Regions from separate parts of the Homo sapiens genome. Here region 2 is linked to region 1. Evidence: fine-mapped expression QTL. A gene starts in region 1. The other region holds a variant in brackets. All regions are shown on one strand. Distances are from middle to middle.

Evidence for each region.
Region 2: its variant is fine-mapped to the expression of SLC9A3-OT1 in whole blood (TOPMed, PIP 0.98).

Annotation. Positions count from the first base shown.
Region 1 is chr5:467,732-476,186 of GRCh38, reverse strand. It overlaps SLC9A3-OT1 (SLC9A3 3' UTR overlapping transcript 1), which reads left to right and starts at 3,222. Exons shown (of 2, transcript NR_024158.1): 1 at 3,222-3,508; 2 at 4,222-5,677. SLC9A3 (solute carrier family 9 member A3) reads left to right here. Exons shown (of 17, transcript NM_004174.4): 14 at 95-167; 15 at 516-626; 16 at 1,055-1,304; 17 at 2,805-5,731. The coding sequence ends at 2,808. It overlaps SLC9A3-AS1 (SLC9A3 antisense RNA 1), which reads right to left and starts at 2,951. Exons shown (of 7, transcript NR_125375.1): 1 at 2,788-2,951; 2 at 868-1,050. RefSeq lists enhancers at 419-1,059, 2,987-3,627, 3,628-4,270 and silencers at 2,244-3,063, 3,184-3,253, 3,614-3,743.
Region 2 is chr5:587,857-596,766 of GRCh38, reverse strand. No RefSeq gene overlaps it. Among named protein-coding and RNA genes, the nearest start is that of CEP72-DT, 20 kb to the left of the region's middle. The variant C/T (reference allele first, on the strand shown) is at 4,445.

The DNA.
Region 1 (8,455 bases):
CAGGAGGCTTGGCGGGGCTGGGGCCTGGAGCGGGGGCAGTCAGGGCTGGGTGTGGCTGTGTCGGGGTGTGAGCAGCTTCACGTTTGCTCCGCAGAGAAACAGCAGCATCCCCAATGGGAAGCTGCCCATGGAGAGCCCTGCGCAGAATTTCACCATCAAGGAGAAAGGTGCGCTGGGGGCCCTGCAGGAACGCTGGGACTGGGAGCCACCACCTCCCAGCCCCAGCCCTCCCGGCTCGGGAACCTCCCCTCTCAGGACCTTCCCCTCTGGGGACCCTCCAGCCACCCAGGCAGGGGAGGCATGGTCAGGGCCCCAGCTGCAGACCCACCCAGGATGGGGTTCCAGGGACACTGCCCTCTAAGTGGGGTCCCTCCTCCAGCCCTGCGGTTTAGCCCTCCTCTCTGTGGGTCCCGACTGCCTGCACCTCTGTGCACAGAGCTGATGGACACTGCTGACTGGGCTGTGAGGACAGCCCCCCAGTGACCCCAGTCCTCACCCCAACCTGTCTTCCCCAGACTTGGAACTTTCAGACACCGAGGAGCCCCCCAACTATGATGAGGAGATGAGTGGGGGGATCGAGTTCCTGGCTAGTGTCACCAAGGACACAGCGTCCGACTCCCCTGCAGGTGGGGACGGGGCACAGGCGTCGTGGCTAAGGGAGGGGTGGCTCCTGCCGCCCCAGGAGGGAGCTCGGTCATTGGACCAGGGGCACTGGGACCTGGGGGGGTGGGGTCTCCTGTGGGTTCTCAAGGGCCCTGCTTGGCACCCACTGAGTGCCCCCTCAACCAACTCGGAGGCTGCTGTCCGGGGAGACGTGGGCCGGGCAGGGAGCAGGTGGGGTATGTCTTGAGGGAAGCGAGACGTTACCTGTGCTGCCTGTGGCGTGTGGGGTCATGGATGTGGGGGAAGGGCCCGCAACCTGAAAGGCACGTGACCCTAACCTTCCCGGTGACCCTAACTTTCCAAGGCACCCAGCAGGTGACGGCCCCGGCGAGGTCTCCCCTGCCGCCGTGGGGCTCTCCGAAGGCTGACTAGCCGCTGCCCTCTCTCCTAGGAATTGACAACCCTGTGTTTTCTCCGGACGAGGCCCTGGACCGCAGCCTCCTGGCCAGGCTGCCGCCCTGGCTGTCTCCCGGGGAGACGGTGGTCCCCTCGCAGAGGGCCCGCACGCAGATTCCCTACTCTCCCGGCACCTTCTGCCGCCTGATGCCCTTCCGCCTCAGCAGCAAGTCCGTGGACTCCTTCCTGCAGGCAGACGGCCCCGAGGAGCGGCCCCCCGCCGCCCTCCCCGAGTCCACACACATGTAACGCTCCCGGGCCTCCCGCCGCCTAACCCCTCTCCGCAGCTCCTCTCCCTCCAGGTCTCCGCCTCGCGCGCGCTGTCTCTCTCCCTCCCCGCCTAACCCCTCTCCGCAGCTCCTCTCCCTCCAGGTCTCCGCCTCGCGCGCGCTGTCTCTCTCCTCCCTGGACCTGAACCTGGCTCGCTCTCTCTCTCCCCGCCTAACCCCTCTCCGCAGCTCCTCTCCCTCCAGGTCTCCGCCTCGCGCGCGCTGTCTCTCTCCTCCCTGGACCTGAACCTGGCTCTCTCCCTCCCCGCCTAACCCCTCTCCGCAGCTCCTCTCCCTCCAGGTCTCCGCCTCGCGCGCGCTGTCTCTCTCCTCCCTGGACCTGAACCTGGCTCGCTCTCTCTCTCTCCCCGCCTAACCCCTCTCCGCAGCTCCTCTCCTCCAGGTCTCCGCCTCGCGCGCGCTGTCTCTCTCCTCCCTGGACCTGAACCTGGTTCTCTCTCTCCCTCCCCGCCTAACCCCTCTCCGCAGCTCCTCTCCCTCCAGGTCTCCGCCTCGCGCGCGCTGTCTCTCTCCTCCCTGGACCTGAACCTGGCTCGCTCTCTCTCTCTCCCCGCCTAACCCCTCTCCGCAGCTCCTCTCCTCCAGGTCTCCGCCTCGCGCGCGCTGTCTCTCTCCTCCCTGGACCGGAACCTGGTTCTCTCTCTCCCTCCCCGCCTAACCCCTCTCCGCAGCTCCTCTCCCTCCAGGTCTCCGCCTCGCGCGCTCGCTCTCTCTCCTCCCTGGACCTGAACCTGGCGCGCTCTCTCTCTCCAGCAGCCCCTCTTCCTCCTCTAGCGCCCTGCTGGCCGCACCTCCCTCAGGAGCCCGGACAGAGATACTCTGGCGTCTCTGCTGCTCCCACGGAGCTGAGGGCACTAGGGCCGCCTGAGATTTCCTTTAGGTGGCTCCGAAAGCTAGTCCGCGAGTCCAAATCCTGCGCTCCCAGGGAGCTGAGAGCAGGGCTGGGGGAAGCCAGACAGACGCCCCGGGTCCCCGACCCTCTCACAGGGATACAGGGAGGGCCGGCCCCGCAGACCCGGACTCTGCCTCCAGCTCAGAGCAGGGAGAGGGGCGGGCCGTGGGGTCTGGGCTTTCTGAGCTCCCTCTGGGGGCCTGGGAGGCACCCGGGGGACGCCAGGGCGGTTTGAGATGGAGGAAGCAGGTCCCCTTGGGGACCTTGACCTCCCGCGCTGCAGGGCCTGGGGCGGGACCTTCCTGCGCCGAGGAGGCCGCTGTCCCGGGACCCCCGGCGGGGGGACGTGGCGGGGCCGGGCTGGGGCTTCGCTGTTGCTGCTTCCGCCTCTGCCCCGCGAACCCGGGTCCTGGGAGGAGGCCCCAGCGGACGCCGAGCCTGGGGTGCGCCGCGGGAGGGGAGGCGAGAGCCGCCGGGCTCGGGGACAGCTGAGGCCCCCGGGGACGCCCCTCCCGCCCCAGCGCCCGGGCTCCGCGCGCCGCTCACGCCTTCCTCTCCCGCAGGTGACACCGGCTCCGACACGCCGCTAACCGGCCGCTCGTCCCCGCGCCACGGTCCGCCCACCGCCGCCGCCGCTGTCCCAGAGAAACCCCAGATCCCCGCGCGGCTACAGCGACCGCGAGCCCCGAGCCCCGCCTCGCCCACGCCAGCGCCTGCGCAGAACTCCGAGAGTGCCGCGCCTGCGCCCGCAGAGCCGCCCGAGGGCGAGCCGGGGGCGGGGCCTGCGCCGGGGGCGGGGCCGGAGCGCCGAGGGCTGCCGAGTGCGCACGCGCGTTCGGCGGCGGCGCGCCGCGTGCACAGCCGGCGCTCGTTCCAGCGGCCTCGCGCGCGCCGCCGCCCCGCGCTGCTGAAGCTGGCGTCGCTGCCGCCCTCGTGCCACGCACCGCCGCACGCGCTGGAGCAGGAGGAGACGCCGCTGTGACGCCGCCGGCGGGAAGGGTCCGCGCGCCATGGCTGGCCGCTCGCGCCCTTTCCCACCGCTGCCGGGAAACCGAGGCTCGCCCCAAACGGATTTGCGTGAAACCAGCCCAAGGTTCCGGGCCCCCCCAACCGAGCCCCGCGCCCGGGGACTGACTCGGGGACCGACTCAGGGACCTCCCGAGCGCCAGGACTCAGGGCCCGACCTGCAGCGGCTGCAGGCCCAGCGCCCGCAAGCGGCCTGGGCCGAGCGCCGTTTCCAGGCCCTCGCCAGGTCTTTGAACTGCAGGTAAAGTGGCAGGAACGTCTTCCGTCTGCTCAGCGTTTGGGGATTTAGACTCCTAAAGCCAGTACCTGCCCCGTTTCCCCCCCAGGTTCCGTCCTGCCCGCGCCCGGTCTCAGGGTGGCGGCCCCGGACACGGCCCGTCCCCACAGACGAGGTCTCCGGCCTGAGCTGTCGCACCTGGCGCGGAGGTCGCCCGGGGTGCCCTGGCTGGGTGAGAGGTGGCCTGGCGGGCGGAGCTTGCCAAGAATCACGGCCAGTCCTTAAGTGGATGGTGGGGCCCAGCAGCTGCTCTGTCCCCCTTAACAAACCAGGGGGCATGGAGGGGCCCAGGGCACCGCCCCCCTACCAGGCTCAGGCCCTCCAAGGAGAACCTGCTGAGACCCCTGAGCCTGTCCTAGACCCCGGACCCCTGACCCTTCCCACCCCTTCCAGCGTCCCAGGGCGAGGCCTTGGACAGAGCTCCTGGTCCTCTGCAGGGAGACCATCCAGCCCAAGCTCTGGGAGGCACAGTCCATTGAGTGGGCGGAGGCCGCGGGTGCTGAGCCGGGGAGGGTGCTCGGAGTCCATCCATCCCTCAGACGGCAAGTCCCACAGGGTCCAACCCACCTGAAACCTGCCTGCACGGTGGAAGTGGTGGAGGTGGACACTCCTAGGGGCTTTTCTAAAGCTAGACTCGCAGCTCCTTGCTCAGGAAAATTAAACTATTCACGTTTCAGATCAAGTGTTGACAGTCACCAGTCAGGAGGAGTTCTTAAAGAGTTTTATGTTGACTGAATATTGCACATTGAGTCCCCATTGAGTCCCTGGTGGGAAAAGTCCACAATTTCCCATTGATAGCTTTTTACTGTTGTGAAAAAGGGAAGCGTCAGCCACACAAAAGCCTGCATGACCGCTGCTTCGGAGAAGCTCTCGACCCTAACTGCAGTCACTGTTACTTGGATCAGATCAAGCGCAGTGACTTTTTGGGATTCAGTGGTTATTCTCCACACTTCGTAGCCATTTCAACCAACTCTGAGCACAAAATGCAGCCATCCTCTATGCAGCAAGCCCTGCCCAGTCAGTGACCCTACTGGACAGATCCAAGGCCAGCCCTGGTTCCCTGCTGCAGCCACCGTCCTGACGTTCATCGGAGCAGGCCGGGGCCTGGCCTTCCCGGCACAAGTGGCTGTTCTGACAGGCCCCCAGTTTGTCCCATCTGAACTGCTGGGAGGTTTCCGGGTGGCCAGAGGAGCAAAGCTGCCTTCCAAGTGCCTGTCTGTGCCTGGGAGAACAGAGCAGGAGCGTCGTGCGGTCCACCGCGCAATGCATGGCGATTCCAGGCGCTGAACAACTCCCCTGGACCCTTGGGCCTGCATCTGACTCCCAGCTGCAGAGTCAGAAGCTGAGTCCAGGCAACTGCTTGGCCACTCCCGATCGCTCCTCCCTGGACACCCGGTTACCAAAGTCAGCAAAGAAGATGCGGTAATCGCCGCCTGATCTCCACATGGTGAACACAACACTCCCACCAACACCTCCTTGACTGGTCGGTCTTCAGCACCGGGGGTGGGCAGGCAGGTGTTCTGTGTTGACGAGAATTGCACAGGCTAAACACAAACACGGAACCAGAGTGAGAACACCTCACTCACGGCAGCCCAGGCTGCTCCCTACCAGGTGACGGAGCGCGCCGGGGCTGTGGGTGCCAGGGGCTGAGTGCTAGGGACTCGTCATGAGTGGGGATCCCCACGTTCCTGTCACTGCTGTCAAACAGAAGGTAAACAGTCTTATGAATGTATTTCCTTAGGAAAACTTGTAAAAACTTTTATTAGGATATCTATTTAATACTGAACTTTGGCCTACTTTGTGATAGACTATAAACAAATTGAGGAAATCACTATTTCTCACTTCTGTATTTTCTCAAAAATAATTTTGTTACAGAGTTCAATATACTGTGTACCATTGATCTTCTATTGTGAAAGCAAAGAATTTCATCAAAATATTTTAAATTATGAGTGAAAATTGTGTATGTTAATTTTGCAGCTATAATATTAATCAAATTTCGTGTAATTCTAATCACAAAATGACGTGCCTTAAGTGCCCCTCCAGCTGTGGGTTGGCAGTGTCCAGACAGGGAGGGCCCATCACCGAAATCCTGAACGATTACTAGACCAATTCTATTAAAAACATTTCAAGGCATTTTGGGTGCAAACTTTGTTTATAAAAGAGAAATATCCACCTATGAGAATTTAAGGAGACGTCTCCTGTAGGCAGACATCGCTCTGCCCAAAAATTAGCACTGACACATGCGTGTGTGTGCGCGTTGTGTGCGTGTGTGCGTGCACGTGCTGTTGCTGCCCTTCCTAGCTGGTGTGAGGAAGCCACTGGACACAGCTGTGGCGCGACCCCTGGATCTGAGCACAGCCCCTCCGGTGCAGACAGATGGGGTCAGAGCCCCCTGCGGAGGCCTGTCATTGCAGGCACCCGTGAGGAGGATGTGACCAGTGACCGTGGGTCCCAGCGGTGACCCTCACACAGAATCAGAGCAAAACACCAGTGAGGGCTGCACACTCACCACCATTCGCCCTGGGCACTCATTCCAGAAGTAACAAGAATTCCCTCTCAGTGGGAAAATAAATGCATTTTTCATTCTTATAAGGGACACTCTAATGACTGTGAACACTACGAATTCTAATTCATATGCATTTACTGAGCACTTACTGTATGCCAGGTGCACTCAAGACCTGCTGCTAAGTGGGAAGCTGGGTTCAGAGGCACATGGAACAGCTCGCCCGCTGGATGCCCTGGGAAGAGCTACCTCTTCTGAGCCCCTGATGCTTGTTAAGAGCTGCTTCTACTTCTCAGTTACTTCTCAAGTTTTGATTCTTTCAAGAAGTCCCATTTGTGAATTTTTCACATCTTGTGAGGATGAAATAAAAGCAAAATGTCAACTCTGCCATCTCAAAAACGTCTTGAGAGCAAAGCGTGTCCTCAGGCTGGAGTACCTGCGGCCCATGGGCAGCCATGGGAGGCCCTCACAGGAACAGATGGCCCCGCTGACACCCCCACCTCTCCCACCTGCACTGCACGGGGCCCACGGGCCAGCCTTGTGGGGTACTCACAGGAACAGATGGGTCTGCTGACACTCCCACCTCTCCCACCTGCACTGCATGGGGCCCGTGGGCCAGCCTTGTGAGGTCCTCACAGGGACAGAAGGGCCCGCTGACACCCCCGCCTCTCCCACCTGCACTGCCTGGGGCCCATGGGCCAGTCTTGTGGGGTCCTCACAGGGACAGAAGGGCCCGCTGACACCCCCACCTCGCCCATCTGCGAGTCCCTGGGGCTCTGAGACAGACAGGGATGGAGGGAACGAAGCGCTGTATACACAGGCGAGAGGAGGAATGAAGGTCAATGCCTTTCACTCACTCAACCAAATCAATACTTTTCTGTAAATTAAGAGAGCACAGGGGTCTGCCCCTCTGAGCACCAGGACCCAGGACTCCCTGCTCATCCTGGGTAATTCCCCCCTTCCTTTGAGACGGAGTCTCGCTCCGTTGCCCAGGCTGGAGTGCAGTGGTGAAATCTCGGCTCACTGCAACCTCCGCCTCCGGGGTTCAAGCAATTCTGCCTCAGCCTCCCAAGTAGCTGGAATTACAGGCATGCACCACCACACCTGGCTAATTTTTGTATTTTTAGTAGAGATGGGGTTTCACCATGTTGGCCAGGCTGGTCTTTGCAAACTCCTGATCTCAAATGATCCACCCACCTTGGCCTCCCAAAGTGTTGGGATTACAGGCGTGAGCCACTGCGCCCGGCCTCCGGGGTAATGCCTTGATTAGCTTTGGAAAAAAATTAAAGATTAACGTGCAAAATGATGCTACCATTGAAGGCAGATGCTGTAGAGAGATGGGTACATTTTAGAAAAGAGAATTTAAAGGATTCTCTATCAGGGAAAGCATGATTCGCGGGTCTTGAAGTGTACTCCAAGTAAATATTCACTTTCATATTTACTTTTACCAAAATTTACACTCCTGCCATTGCTCGTCTACCAGGTATGGCTGACTTGGCTGGCAACACCCGGTGCCAGAGGTCTGCTCACCTGGGGGTGGGGACAGGGCTTGCTGGGTGCAGCTGGTGTCTCATCTCTCAAAGGACCCAAGGAGTAACTCTGGGGATGTCAAACAGGAGGGGACCAGGAGGGCACCCTCCAGGCTGAGGGGATGTCAGACAGGAGGGGACCAGGAGGGCGCCCTCCAGGCTGAGGGGATGTCAGACAGGAGGGGACCAGGAGGGCGCCCTCCAGGCTGAGGGGATGTCAGACAGGAGGGGACCAGGAGGGCGCCCTCCAGGCTGAGGGGATGTCAGACAGGAGGGGACCAGGAGGGCGCCCTCCAGGCTGAGGGGATGTCAGATACGAGGGGACCAGGAGGGCGCCCTCCAGGCTGAGGGGATGTCAGATACGAGGGGACCAGGAGGGCGCCCTCCAGGCTGAGGGGATGTCAGATACGAGGGGACCAGGAGGGCGCCCTCCAGGCTGAGGGGATGTCAGACAGGAGGGGATCAGGAGGGCGCCCTCCAGGCTGAGGGGATGTCAGACAGGAGGGGACCAGGAGGGCGCCCTCCAGGCTGAGGGGATGTCAGATACGAGGGGACCAGGAGGGCGCCCTCCAGGCTGAGGGGATGTCAGACAGGAGGGGATCAGGAGGGCGCCCTCCAGGCTGAGGGGATGTCAGACAGGAGGGGACCAGGAGGGCGCCCTCCAGGCTGAGGGGATGTCAGATACGAGGGGACCAGGAGGGCGCCCTCCAGGCTGAGGGGATGTCAGACATGAGGGGATCAGGAGGGCGCCCTCTAGGCTGAGGGGATGTCAGACATGAGGGGACCAGGAGGGCACCCTCTAGGCTGAGGGGATGTCAGACAGGAGGGGACCAGGAGGGCGCCATCCAGGCTGAGGGGATGTCAGACATGAGGGGATCA
Region 2 (8,910 bases), 120 kb before region 1:
AGGAGTTGTTATGGACTGAATTGTGTCCCACAAAATTCACATGTTGAAGCCCTAACCCCCAATGTAACTGTATTTAGAGACAGGGCCTGTAAGGAGGTGATTATGGTTGCAAGAAGTCATATGAGGGGGTCCGATTCAATAGGACTTATGTCCTTACAAGAAGATGGAAAGAAGCCAGGAATCATTCACTCTCCACACCAGCACAAAAAAATACCATGTGAGAACACTGAGAAGTCAACCCCAACAGCCTTCATCTTGGTCCTCCAGCTTCCAGAATGGTGAGAAAACAAATTTTTGCCCTTTAAGGCCCCAGTCTGTGGTATTTTGACATGGCAGCCCTAACCAACTGAGATGGGAATGTTGGGGTCACCAATTCCAGTATGGAGCTGCCTGTTCCCTTTCAGGCAGCTCTATCGTCTTTGTCTTGTGTGTTTGGAAGCCCTATCGTTGGGTGCATATGTGTTTAGGATTACTAGGTCTTCTTGGGGAGTTGATCCTTTGTCATTATGCAACGTCCCTCTTTACTCTTAGGAATTTTCCTTGCTCTGAAATCTACTTTGTCACTCCAGTTTTTTTAATTGGTGTTTGCTTGGCATATCTTTTTCTATCCTTTTATGTTTAATCTGCCTATATTTTGTATTTAAAGAGGGTTTTTATAGACAGCCTGTAGATAAGACTTGCCTTTATCCAGTCTGATAATTTCTGCCTTTAATCAGTATGTTTAGATCATCTACATTTATATTCATTACTGATGTGTCTGAATTTAGGTCCAGCATTTCTTGCATGTCCTCTATTTGGCACCTCTGATTTTTTCTCCTTTTCCCCTTTGCATGTCTTCTTTTGGATTATTGGGATATTTTGTGGTATTTCATTTTGATTTATCTAATGGTTTCTTGAATTCTATCTCTGTGTATTGTCATTCTAAGGATTGCAATATACATTCTAACTCCTCCTCACCTTGCCAGTCTATGCAGAATTAATATTTTACCACTTCTGGCTGGAATGCTGGGACCTTGTCCCCACCAAGGCCCCTTCACTGTGCCCTTTGTCACAGTCATCGTATTGCACCTGCACATATTGAAAATTCAACCAAGCAATGTTGTTAATTGTTGCTTTCAACCATCATATGTACTTTAAAGACTCATCTACATGCTGTCTACAAGAAACTCATTTTCAATGTAATGATACAGACTGTTTCACAGTCAAAGGATGGGAAAAGAGCTATCAGGCCAACATCAGTTACACAAAAATCCTCAAACAGCTCTATTCATGTGAGACAAAATAGATTCAGAGCAAGAAAAGTCACTTGGGGTAAAGAGGAGAACAATAGTGTGCTGTGTTTCCTTGGACATTTACTGCTTGTCTTGCCCTTTCTTCCTTCTTGGGGTTGTGGGTTTTCCTCTGTATCTTCCCTCAAGCTGAAGAACTTGCTTTGGCATCTTTTAAAGCAGGTGTGCCGGCAACAAATTCTCTTAGTGCGTCCTCACTGGAGATCATCAATTTTTCTTTCATTTCCGAAGGGTGTTCTCGCGTCGATTTTTCCTTCGTTTCCGAAGGGTGTTCTCGCATCGATTTTTCTTTCGTTTCCGAAGGGTGTTCTCGCGTCGACTTTTCTTCATTTCTGAAGGGTGTTCTCGCGTCGATTTTTCCTTCATTTCCGAAGGGTGTTCTCACGTCGACTTTTCCTTCATTTCCGAAGGGTGTTCTCACGTTGATTTTTCATTTCTGAAGGGTGTTCTCGCATCGATTTTTCCTTCGTTTCCAAAGGGTGTTCTCGCATTGATTTTTCCTTCATTTCTGAAGGGTATTCTCGTGTTGATTTTTAATTCATTTCTGAAGGGTATTTTCGGTCGATTTTTTCATTTCTGAAGGGTATTCTTGCATCGATTTTTCCTCCATTTCTGAAATTCTCACAGATGCACAACTCTGGCTTGGTGCTTCCTTTGGTTTCTTGTTTTCAATGTTCTTCCACATCCTGGTCTGCACAGCATCTGATGAGAAACTGCAGCCGGGATTATTGTGCCCTGTAGGGGATGTGTCATTTCTGTCTGACTGCTTCTCTGGAACTAATTAAATAAGTTAAACCAGTGCTTTTTCTCCAGGAAACACTTGGACACCTGTCTTTTATCACCTACTTGTCACTGTGGGAAACTCAGCTCTCAGCCCAGGGGGTAAAGCAGATGTTGACAGGTGGTTGGAAATCAATTGCCCTCCTTGGCTGACATGAGCCCCAGGGAGCATGTTGACTAATCAGTGGCCTTTGGGGAAAGAGCAGTATCAGGTCCAGAGAGAGGGAACCATCCCCAGTGTATCCAAAAGAGGAAGCACACTGTTGTGGGTACGATTGAGTTCCCCCTCAGAAGGTATGTCCAAATCCCAACACCCAGTGCCTTATTTGGAAATCAGGTCTTTGCAGATGTCATTAAATAAGATGAGGTCACACTGGACTGGAGTGAGCCTAATGATGACACCCTTATAAGAGAGAGAAATTTGGACACACAGACACACAGAGAAGGAAGGCCAGCATAGTGTGATGTTGTCACAAGCCAGGGACAACCCAGAATTGTGGACAACACCAGAAAGGGAAAGAGGCAAGGAAAGTTCCTCCCTGGAGCCTTTGGAGGGTGCATGGTCCTGTGGACACCTTGAATTACACGTCTCATCTCTGAAACAGTGACAGAATACACTTCCAGTGTTTCCAGCCATGCGGTGTGCAATAATTTGTTACAGAAGTCCTAGGAAACACGTACACACACCTTTTCTTTGTGTATTTAGCCTCTTTGTCCTTAAATCCCATAAGTCTGCTTTGGCCAAAGATGCAGGTCCCCACTTCTTGGCCGTAAAGAGAAGGTTTCCCTGGCCTGGCCACATTGCTTTTTGGTTCAGCCTCATTGCTGACTTAGGGACAACAGGAACTTATCCCCAGGAGAGGTTCTGAGGGAAGCAAGAGGCTCTGTAGCCTCTTGCCAGGGGCCCGGCGTCTCTTCAGTATGGACAGAATTGAACAAGTGAATGGCCTGCTCCTGAGTCCCACTGGCTAAATTAGGGGTCGGGCTTTGCTTTCCACCCCGAGTGTGAGTGCAGCAGCCAGGCTCCCCATCACAGCACAGGGTGGCACATGGATGGGGCAGTGCCTCTTCCACAGGAATGCCAGCAAAGCCACATCCTGAGGCCATAAGGTGGCTCCAGTGGTCAGTAAAGATCTGGCCTCGGCAACGTGTGGGACTCGTGGGACATGTCACGGAACAGAGTGTCTAATGGCAACAGGCTGGGCTGTGACTTCTGCCCTGGGCCAGGGACATGCACAGTGTGTCTTTTTGTTTTTGTTGTTGTTTTTGAGACGGAGTCTCGCTGTCACCCAGGCTGGAGTGCAGTGGTGTAATCTCAGCTCACTACAAACTCCACCTACCTGGTTCAAGTGATCCTCCTGCCTCAGCCTCCTGAGTAGCTGGAATTACAGGCACACGCCACCACACCTGGCTAATTTTTGTATTTTTAGTAGAGACGGGGTTTCACCATGATGGCCAGGCTGGTCTCAAACTCCTGACCTCAGGTGATCCACCTACATCGGCCACCCAAAGTGCTGGGATTATAAGTGTGAGCCACCGCACATGGCCCACAGTGCATCTTTAAATATTAAACAGGAAAAGAAATCAACCCAGGAAATTCCACTTCCAAAAATGGAAGTCTAGATCACCTATACCCCCCCAGATGCCAAGGATAACTGGAAAACTTGGACAAAATAGAACCATATCTGCTTGAAGGCACTGGAAACCAACCAAGTAGTGTAGACACGCCTGGCTGGCACCCAAGAGAAATGCGACTGTAGGTGGGTGAGCCTGGGATCTGGGTGTAGACAAGCCCGGCTGGCAGCCAAGAGAAATGCGATTGTAGGTGGGTGAGCCTGGGATCTGGGGACATGCCTTCTGTGGGCCATGCCAATTTCAGGAGCAGTGGCTAAAAATCAGTGCCATCCTTTTGAAAGTACTTTGGGGTCGGGGGACAAGTGTTGGCACAAAGACCCAGGAGGAATAAAGTTTCTGCTCTGTATCCCCTGCTTGGGAAGAGAACCTATATAGCTCTTCATGGGGATAAAAGGTAAACTGAGGTCAACCAGCCTGCCAGGGGCCGCAGCCCAACTCCAAGTCATCTGGGAACTCCAGGACCCCCCTGTCCCTGATCCTGGGTTACAGTGTTCCCAGACCAATGGTGTGTCCAGGTGGGGAGGCACAAAGCCTTAAAACTCTGCTTACTTTCTCAGCTGGGAAGCAGATAGCCTGGGGCAGGTTTGCAGCCCTGCTCACCCACTGCCCGGAGACAGACTTTGTGCTGTTGGGAGTGGGGGCGAATGGCAGGAGTGAGACTGGCCTTGCTGGCTGTGTGGGAGTGGGGTGAAGCCTGTAACTGCCTGCTTCCCCACACTTCCCTGGCGACCTGTATGACA[C/T]AGCAGAGGCAGCCATAATCCCTCTGGGAACATAACTCCATTGACCAGGGAACCACGCCCCATCTCCTACAGCAGCTGCAGCAAGCCCCACCCAAGGAGAGGCTGAGTTCGGACATGCCTAACCCTGCCCCCACCTGGTGGTCTTTCTCTACCTGTCCTGGTAGCTGAAGACAAAGGACATAATCTCCTGGGGGCTCTAGGGCAAGCTTGTATCTTCTCTATAAAACCTCAGCTGATGCACTCTTGAAAGCACCACCTCCTGGCTGGAGGCCAACCTATACCAAACCAGCGCACTTAACAACGCTACCACCAAGGACCCTCAGAGTCCACTTCACTCCCCTGACACCTCCACCAGAGCAGGTGCTGGTATCCATGGCTGAGAGACCTGAAGACAGAGCACGTCACAGGACTCTGTGCAGACACTCCCCTGTACCAGCCTGGAGCCCAGTAGCTCCACTGGGTGGCTAGACCAAGAAGAGCAAAACAATTACTGCAGTTCGGCCCTCAGGAAGCCCCATCGCTAGAGGAAGGGGGAGAGCACCACCTCAAGGGAACACCCTGTGGGACAAAAGAATCTGAACAGCAGCCCTTGAGACCCAGATCTTCCCTCTGACATAGTCTACCAAATGAGAAGGAAGCAGAAAAACAATTCCAGTAATATGACAAAACAACATTCTTTAGTACCCCCAAAAGTGCATGCTAGCTCACCAGCAATGGATCCAAACCAATAAGAAATCCCTGAAGTGCCAGAAAAAGAATTCAAAAGGTCTATTATTAAGCTAATCAAGGAGTTACTAGAGAAAGGTGAAGTCCAACTAATGAAATTTTTAAAAAATGATACAAGATTTGAAGGGAAAAATCTCCAGTGAAATAGATAACATAAATAGAAATCCACATGTTAGACACACTGTAGTGAACTACAGAAAACCAAAATAAAAATAAACATCATAAAAGCAACCAGCATACAAAGTAAGATTACTTTAGAAGGAGCAAAAATTTGATAGACATCCAACTTCTCAGCAGAAACAATGGAAGCCAGAGGACAATGCAATAAAATCTTTAAATGGTGTAAGAAACAAAAAATAACTCCCAGTCTAGGATATTACTCCAAGTAAAAATATCATTCAAGAACAAAGTTAAAATAAAGCTATTTTTATAACAAAGACAAAAGAAAACAAAACTGAGAGAACCACAAAGATGCTGGCAAAGCAGTAGGGGGAAGAAAACGATCTTTTCAGAAAATGGTCAGTTTTACGTCTCCTCCCGTGGAGACATGGATGAAATGCAACCTCCACCTGTCATGGGCCCCCCCTCTGAGCCCCAAGACAACAGCTAAAGCTGGCAGGTACCCCTCCTCAGAGGTCTTGATTTTAAAATAGTAGTAGTTCCAATATTTCCCCTTTGTTCCTCCAGCCACAGGTGTAGTAGCTTCCTCTAGTAGCCTCTACCTTCAAGATATCTTTCAGTTGCCTGCTAAACTCCAAGCCTGGTTAACAATCCTTCATTTCAGTTTTCTGTGTTTAAATAATTGCTGTGGTTTCTGTCTCTTGATTGTGCCCTCACTGGTATGTGGGGTTCATGACAACCTGTCATTGACTAAAATGGCAATCTATATTTTCCAATATAAATAATATATTCATGACAACACATCAACATTCTTAATAAGAAAATTCTTTTAGGATACCAGGGGAACATATCTAATTATACCTAACACTCCCTTGTTTGGTGACAGGAAACTCTGGAATTTTATGGAAAATACTATGACCATGATTCATTAACTTATTTAAAAAGCATTTATCACCCTAAGAATATTTTTGGACTCTTAAAGGCAAGGATTGTGCTTTTTCCTTTGGAATTTTGTGGACTAAAATAGAAATGGGAATTAGAGACAAAAATCCTGATAACAACTCTATCACTAGCTAATTATGTCTTGTATCTTGGGCAAGTCTCTGTCCCTCTCATTTAGGCAAGTTCCTTCCACAGCAAAATTGGAAAATTAAACAGTGTAATTGTTCAGGTCTTGTCAGATACATGACTTTTTGCTATAGCATTCAACACATTAGAAATACATCAGGCAGCCAGTAAATGTTTACAACAGAAGTGATATGGTTTGGCTGTGTCCCCACCTAAATCTCATCTTGAATTGTAGTTCCCATAATCCCCACATGTCATGGGAGGGACCTGGTGGGAAGTCATTGAATCATGGGGACAGTTACCCTCATGCTGTTCTCATGATAGTGAGTGATTTTCACAAGATCTGATGGTTTTACAAAGGGCTTCCCCCTTCACTCTGCACTTCTTCTTGCTGCTGCCATGTGAAGAAGGACATGTTTGCTTCCCCTTCCACCATGATTGTAAGTTTCCTGAGGCCTCCTCAGCCTTGTGAAACTGTGAGTCAATTAAACCTCTTTCCTTCATAAATTACCAAGTCTCAGGCAGTTCTTTATAGCAGCATGAGAACAAACCACTACAAGAGGAAGTGCATTTGAATATGCCCACTTTGGTGCTAGCAGCCTCCATGGTGCCACAACCTGACCATGCCTCCCTGGCTCCTGGTATTCACTTCTCATCACACTAGGTTGGACCCAGGCCAAATGACAGTGGCAGATGTTGTGGGTGTCACCTCTGAGATCAGGCTGTGGAAGACCACGGCTCCATTCCAAGTGCTCACTCTCACATCACTGGCTCTAGGAGATACTTAAGGAGAGCAACTATTAGGTTGGTGCAAAAGTAATTGCAGTTTTTGTGATTACTTTCAATATTTTAATAGCACCTCCTGCCAAACTCATTTGAGAGACCTTGAAAGCAGATCTGCAGCCCCAGTTGAGCCTTCAAATTACCACAGCCCCAGGCATGAGCTTGACAGCAGCCATGTGACAGCCCCTGAGACAGAACCACCCAACTCACCACTCCCAGCTTCCTCACCCACAGAAACTGTGAGATGATGAGTGCTTGTTGCTCAAGCTGCTAAGCTGTGGGGATTTGTTACACAGCCATGGATAATGGATACACTTCTCAATGGGATGGTTAGGGTGCAGCCAAGGTGGAGGCGTGAACTATGTGGGCAGCTGATGCCTTCCTCTCCCTCTTGCATTTGAATGATGGTTTGGGACCTTCTGTCTTCAAAGCCAAAATGTGTTCCTGATCACATTATTTATGGCTTAGCAAGGCAATGGTGTCACTGCAAGACAAGGACATAGATCACAGCGTCCTGAAATTGGGACAACACCTGGCTCGAATTCACGGTTGAGAAAGCATCTGCTGAGCCTGGCACTTCTGAGGATGCCTTCCTGGAAGCTTCAGTGTCAGACAGTGTGGAGTTATGCTTTTTCTCTTTCGGGGCAGAAAATTCCAGAGCTGGTGAGCTGCAGGATGAGCCCCCAATGTTCTGACGGTTGTGGGCATGGCAGGTGCCAAGAATAACGCACACCCTCCGCATTACAGCCTGGATGGGCTGTGGGTCCATTGCCACCCCAGAGCTGCTGCTCACAGAATGAGGCACAGCCTGGGCTCTGCTCTGCACCTGTGCCGGGAGCAGCCTGGGGCATTCTGTGGATTTGGGGATAGGTATGATTCCTTGTTCATTTTTATTTCAAGGTTATAGACTGAAAACATCATCATCATTTCTGACCCTAATGCCTCGACAGACACAGAAGGCCTCACACCTCTGCCCTCCCCCAAAGATGTCACGGGAAACGTCAACAGAACATCCTTGTCACCACTTCATTTTCACCCACACAGCATTTTGACGTGTTGCAGAAACACAGCACAGCACTGGCAGGTGTTCTGCAGGAAGACACGTGTGTGAATAATGTGTCCATAAAAACAATGTAAAACAATTGACAAAAATGACAATTAGTATCAGGAGGCTTGGCCGCTGGGGGAAGATGTAAAACCAGGCTAGAATCTCAGCTGTACCCACCGCTGTGCTCTGGGGCAACTCACGGGAGCATGTTCTCCACCAATTTGCGATGGAATGAGGTCATTACTGGACACGATGGCTGCAAGACAACGCTTCCATATTTCCCATAACAGCCATGTCTGCTGCCTGACAAATGTTGGAAGGACAGACAGGCCGAGACCGGAGGGGTCTGTGCCACACCCCGGACTCCCACCCTCTTAATAAATCCAGGGCTTGGTTTTCACTGCTTTGTCTGGATGAGCCAATCAGCAAGGGATGCACCTGAGCCTCTGTGTGAACTGTGCAGAGCTCTGCATGCAAGACCACTATGGAATACGCCACTTCCATGCATGGAACACACAACTTCCACATATGGAACACATCACCTCCAGGCATGGAACATGCCACCTCCAGGCATGGAACACACCACCTCCACATGTGGAACACAGATCCTCCACATATGGAACACACCACCTCCTGGCATGGAACATGCAACCTCCACATATAGAACACACCACCTCCTGGCATGGAACATGCAACCTCCACATATGGAACATGCCATCTC